Linked DNA regions of Homo sapiens: region 2 is reported to be linked to region 1. The links are microRNA targets in miRTarBase. Many come from high-throughput screens and were not tested one by one. Region 1 holds a microRNA gene; the other region holds the end of a gene's coding sequence.

The links. Region 1 holds the annotated microRNA hsa-miR-4431 (GCGACUCUGAAAACUAGAAGGU, at 1,106-1,127, shown strand). A microRNA usually pairs through its seed, bases 2 to 8, with sites in the 3' UTR of a target mRNA and lowers its output. Matches are read on the target gene's strand: a 7mer-m8 pairs with bases 2 to 8, a 7mer-A1 pairs with bases 2 to 7 and ends in A, and an 8mer does both.
Region 2: the mRNA of E2F7 is a reported target of hsa-miR-4431. Seed matches in the 3' UTR shown: 7mer-m8 at 9-15.

Annotation. Positions count from the first base shown.
Region 1 is chr2:52,700,565-52,703,714 of GRCh38, reverse strand. MIR4431 (microRNA 4431) reads left to right here and starts at 1,100; the gene lies at 1,100-1,193.
Region 2 is chr12:77,021,587-77,024,586 of GRCh38, forward strand. It overlaps E2F7 (E2F transcription factor 7), which reads right to left. Exons shown (of 13, transcript NM_203394.3): 13 at 1-2,599. The coding sequence ends at 2,429. Among named protein-coding and RNA genes, the nearest start is that of E2F7, 42 kb to the right of the region's middle.

The sequences.
Region 1 (3,150 bases):
CACAGGGGAAATAAATCAATCCTCTCATTGCTTTACTGAGTCTGGATTTTGGAGCTCACCTGAGAATAAAAAGTTTGACCCTGGTGGAAGTGGGAGGTGAGACACATAATATAAGCAGCGTTCCAGAATAAAAAGATCACAGGAGGCACCAAAGTTGGGTTATTCACGACCTAGAGACTATTTTACACTATGACTTCACAACTTGAGTTTTAGGATCAATTTCAAGGAAAGAAGCAACTTTAGTTTATAGACTCTGATGTGTCATATATACTTACAAAGTATTCTCTCTTAACCCCACACATTAAAGTGAGAGCTGTATTATTTGTATCCAGAGAGCGTGCAAGAAACACAAAGTTTAGCTCCAAAAAATGCGCTGGTCTTTGTCCTGCTGAAACATTTTAGGATTGGCTAGGATTGGCCTATTGATTTATTGTTTAGGAAGAATAAAGTAGCAAGAAAGGGATAGGGCAAACAGCCCAGGAGACCAAAGCTTTTGATTTATTGACAAAACAAGTGTAGGCTTCTGGCCACTCTCAAAGCGACACCTTTAGAAACCAGAGTTTGTTTCTATTCTGGCTAACCTTGAGGACAAGTGAGTATGTCTGTTCTCCAAATCTTAGAGCCTAGTGAGGGCTGGAATCAGACACAGATCCGCCATTAATGAACAGTGAAGAGTTCTATGCTACTTTTATAGCAGTGAGACACAGTTTTTCTAATCAGCTGAGAAACTAATTTCTACCTTAATTCCAGTAAAATGAATAGGTGCTTTTTCATGGATAAGTTCCCAATAAAAAAGCTCATGTGGTATTGCTAGGGCTTCGGTGTTTGTCCCCTCCAAACCTCATGTTGAAATTTGATCTCAAGGTTGCAAGTGGAGCCTGATGGTGGGTGTTTGGGTCATGGGGGGCATATTCCTCATGCATAGATGAGTGCCTTTCCTCAGGGGTAAATTAGTTCTCATTCTATTAGCTCCCTGAGAGCTGGTTGTTAAAAAGAGCCTGGTACATCCTCTCTCTCTGGCTTCCTCCCTTGCCATGTCTCTGCACACTCTAGCTTCCGTTTGCCTTCTGCCATGAGTGGAAGAAGCTCAATGTTTAATTGGTTTGCGACTCTGAAAACTAGAAGGTTTATGACTGGGCATTTCTCACCCAATGCCCAATATTGAACTTTCTAGTTGTCAGAGTCATTAACCCATTAAACCTTTTTTCTTTATGAATTACCCAGTTTCAAGTATTCCTATATAGCAGCACAAAATGGACTAAGACAGGTATGTATATCATAATAGCTTCAAAAAGAGTGTAATTTATATTCTTTAAGTATTTGAAACTTTGAACTTTACAGTTTATGAGTATATCTGTAATTATAAGAAGGATTTAATCACAATAAGCATTGTTTTTGAAACTTTGTAATAAGCTTAACCCCTTTAGACAAATTAAAAGTAATCATTATTAACATTTTCCCTGGAGTTTTCCTGTAGCCATGTTTACTCTTTCCAAATTTGATGCCCTAAAGATAAAATGACATAATAGCTGAGGACACATGCTCTGCTGTTAGACTGCCTGAGTTTTAATCTTGGTTTAAATACTGTACTTACTGCCTGTGTAACCCCAATCAGGTATGTAAGTTCTCTGTGCCTCCATTTTCTCATCTGTAAAGTGTGACTAATAATATCTCTTCTTAGGGCTACTGAAAAAATTAGATAAGCTAACATAGGCAAAAGTACTTGGTACATAATATAGTACTTGGTAACTGTTTATTGCAATTATCAGTTTCTGAGAATTATTTTATAAAATACCTGAGTAAAATCAATTGTATTAAAGCTCCACAGCAGATCAATTCTGTGGCAGTAGAGGTAAGGCTATAAGATGGAACCTTAAATTTAAACTATATTCTGGGAGTGAGTAGGGTTGGTGATTTCTCCAAACAGTGGTGAGGTGGAATTTGCAAAAGAATGAGTGCTGGATGGATAAAAGACTGATTTTTTTCTACATTTGAAATACCAAAATTAGTGTCTAAATTATTGTTATCTCTTCAAACATTAGTTTATATTTTGTGATGTTTTAAAAATTGTTTAGGAGTCTAGTCCATTCTTACATGTTATGTTCTTGAAATGATTATTTTGTATGATACTGTGTTGCTCTCCATTTTGACTTAGTTTTTGTCTTATACAGGTAAAATCAGTCTTCCCCAGACCAGACAATCTGTTCATTCCAGCCTTCCAAGCTAACCCAGTGCTGCTATAATTGGTATCTTGGAATAGCCTTGAGTATGTGGACTTATACAACCACAGTCTAGTATATTACCATGCATTAATAAAAATAGCCCTGTATTTCTATGGAAGAGAGAGAAAAATACCCAGGGTAATCTTTAATATACTGAATTTCCACTTTGTCAGCTACATGTGGTATTCCTGTTATTTAGAATTATTTTTTTCTGTTAAACTGGACATAACAGATTGTGTGTATGTGTGTGCATGCCTGAGAGAGAAAGAGACAGAGACAGAGAACGAGAGAGACTTAAATTTCTCAGGACATTGCAGGTATTGTCTTCTGCACCAAGATACATCCAAAACAGTCAGGTCCATTAAACCAACATGGATACTCACTCTTTTATTCATTTGATGAATAAAATAAAAGAGTTATACTAACTCTTTTATTCCATTTGATGATATGGTATGGATACCTGTTTACTCTATTAGGCTTTTACTTTGCATTGAAATTGAAGCAACATAACATCAGTTTCCTTAGTATCGTGTTTGACTTGCCTATGCAATTATTTTCACATAAACACACTTAGATTTTTTGAAAATATCTATAAAGTTATAATTGTTTCAGCAACAATTTCCTGAGTGTACAATATATCTTTATATTTGTATAGCAACATTTTGAAAACAGTATGGCTGATTTACATTTCCCTGAAAATCTTGAGTATCAGAAAATATTCCTTTAAGCCCTCTCAATGATTTTGGGAATAGTAGATCTTCAGTTATTATATAGGTACATTCCAAGAAAGAAAGCAAAAGGGCACATGTTTCTCAGAAGCACTTTCATTTTGACAGATTTTATTCTCCAGAGATGATTGTACAGTATCTCCCATCCACACACTCTTCTGAAATGTTTCCTTGACTTTAACCCACCAAAAAGTAGAGCT
Region 2 (3,000 bases), not on the chromosome of region 1:
TATACCCCCGACTCTTGTACCAGAATGAAAGGGTTTTACAAACCCTGGTCAGTGTAGGGCACACACAGCCTCTGTGACAACTCAAAAAAGCTGCATTCTCTTAGTAGGACCACCAACGATTATTTTTTTCTTTTACTAAATTATACAATAATAGACTCAAGATTGCCATTGCTTCTTCACTACCCAAAATATCCAAGTCTAGCGCAGCAGCTTCAATTCCACCAGTTGTTCTGTAAGATTTATTTTCCTGACAGAAACAACCACTGCATTATTATTTTTACATATAAAGCCACATTAAGAAGTGGATACTGAATACAGAAGCAATTGTCCTTGGTTTTCTACTCCTAAGAATGGTCACCAAGTCATAATATCCTCACCAATGGGACTGCTTCTTAACACCCCTCAGGAATTATGAATTCTGAGGTTAAATGGTCATATCATGATCAGAATAATAAAAAAAGATAGCAAAAATGTTAAAACAAGTATAGAGCATTCAGGAACAGTGAGGGGAAAAGCAATTTCTGTTTCCGTCTAAATGCAGACCTCTCCATGAAATATTTTGTGGAAGTTCTTAAGCATGGTAGAATTAACATGCATATACCCTGCACAGATTGAAACCTGAAAAAGGTATATTTTTATTTGTTTTGATAGGGAACCCATCAGTTTTAGTTCAGGGTCATTTAACCATGCAATTGTTGATGGTTAGAACCACATTTTTAACCTAACTCTATAGAAGACTGTAAAAAAGAAAAAAAAAACTTGTAAACTTTAAAAGTTTAGTGTTGATAAAAATTTTTATATAAGTAGCAAATTTATTTAATGTAGCTACCTACCTCAAGTTTTAAAAAATCTTGTGGGGGTAATAAGGCTAATATTATCCTGTAGTTAATATAAAGCTACTTTATTCAGACTCCCAGAGTCTCTTAAATTAATATTTTCATTCTTTCATATAACATTTTATTGGGTCAAAAAATAAAAATAAAATAAAACCCTACACCAGGATTCTACATCTAAGATAGTTTTAAGAGAGGAAGAGGAAGGAAGAAAAGAAGTAGGAAGGAGGGAAGGAAGAGAGAATGAAGGAAAGTAGGAAGGAAAGAAGGGAACCATTTACTCTGAAGAGACAAGAGAGAGGTAAATATCAGCAAGTCTAGGAATACAAAGAACTAGTATAGTTTGGCGACTTAATGCACCCCTAAAGTAATGTGGGTTAAAAAAGGGAAATTGCATAACAGTTTCCAGAATTGTATTCATGCTAGAACAACCAACCCGTGCGCTCACCATTCTCATTTTTCAGAGGTACCAACTAACTACAGTTTGAATACCCTTGGATATGAAACATATGTCCATTTTCCCTCTTACTCTTCTGGACATGAAGTAGAAGAAAAACAAAAGAATCATCTCTTGCCCTGTATCAATTTTCACATCATTACTCTTCAGAATTCAACGAAAAGGTCTCATCCAGGTTCCAATTTTCCATATAATCACTTTCTACCATCCTGATTTATTTTACAAACAGCAATTGTTAGAAGGCATCCATATCTGATGGCGCTACAGCTAAATATTTAAATAAAAAATGCAGGGCATGTAGTGAAGGAAACTGGGCACAGTAGGATTTTTAGAAACAAACAGTAATATCTCACTGTTCACACAGTTATTTGAGAAGCAGCAGTTAGGCTGCTAGAGTTCTAGAGTTCATCTTTGTTCTCAAGCCCACAGTCAGGGTTAGCACAGTTCATTTACAGCAAGGTGTGTCATTCACAGTTATTTTGGTCTTGACATGTGTCATGTAGATACATTTATCCACATTATTACTAGGTTGTAAAATAAGTGCAGGGCAAATTATAGAATAAAAGTATAAACATTCAAGTCGTCATACCCTGAAAAAAATGTGTTAAAGACTGTAGTTGTAAACTTTTTGCACTAAATCCCATTTCAGGAACAAAATAAATAACACCATAGGATTCACAACTGAAGGTGGCTTCCTGATGAAGCCTAAGGAAGCAGTAGCTTTTTTAAACTGCAGAAAGGAAGCTTCTCTCACCACAGATTTACTCAGGGCAAGTGGAAATACATGTTAAGAATGCTTACCCTAGTTAAGTGCTAGACAGCGCCCCCCTTTAGAAAAACAAGGCTCCGGTAGCCTATTCAGATCTACTTCCAGAATAAGACGATTCTTGAATCAAAACCATAAGTCAGTCGGCGCTTTCACTGTGACACCATGCAGAGTCGGAACTCTAACTGGTATTAAATGCACAATTAATTACTTTCAGGAAATCAGATGATTGATGGTGGTGGGAAGTTAACAGAAGTGTGGATGAAAGAGAGAGGAAGGACCCGTGCTCAGGACGGGATGGTTTGCATCCCGCCTCGGACATCCGGGACTCTCAGGGCGTTTGATCCCACCCCCACCTGGCAAAGCGGCAGGTTAGTCAGCGCCGCCGCTGGGGATTTCTAGTCTCCTCTGGGCCGAGCTGGTGTTTCGTGACTGGTTCCTTTCTCTTCTCTTCAGGACAGGGTCTCCAAGGCTGCCGGGTGTCTTGAAAAACGTCTCACGATGTGTGCGTTGGATGCTCTTGGGGGTCACTGGAACTGGTGACTGAAAAAAGAAAAAAGAAAAAACAGAAGTGAAGTCATATTGTTTCTGATCTCTGAGTAGAAAGGCAGCCCTTTCTTGACCTGTGTGTTAGGATCCCAAGGCAGGCGTTCCTTCTTCTTTGCTTTCTTATCACACTTACCCCGTTTGTCTCCCCTGCTTACCACAACTGAAAATTAAATTCATATTTGTTGTTTTGGGTGCAGAAAGGCAGTCTACCAAAGAGGTATCTTTGGTATCTGGAGCCAGGGACTGGGCTCTGCCACTGTGGACAAGTTACTTAAGCAACCTGTCCCTCAGTTTCTTCCTCCATCCAACGGCGATGGTAAAATTACTGACTTCACAAGGTTGTAGGAATTAAATAAGATAATTGTAAAGCACTTTAGAGCATGTGAGGCCAACAT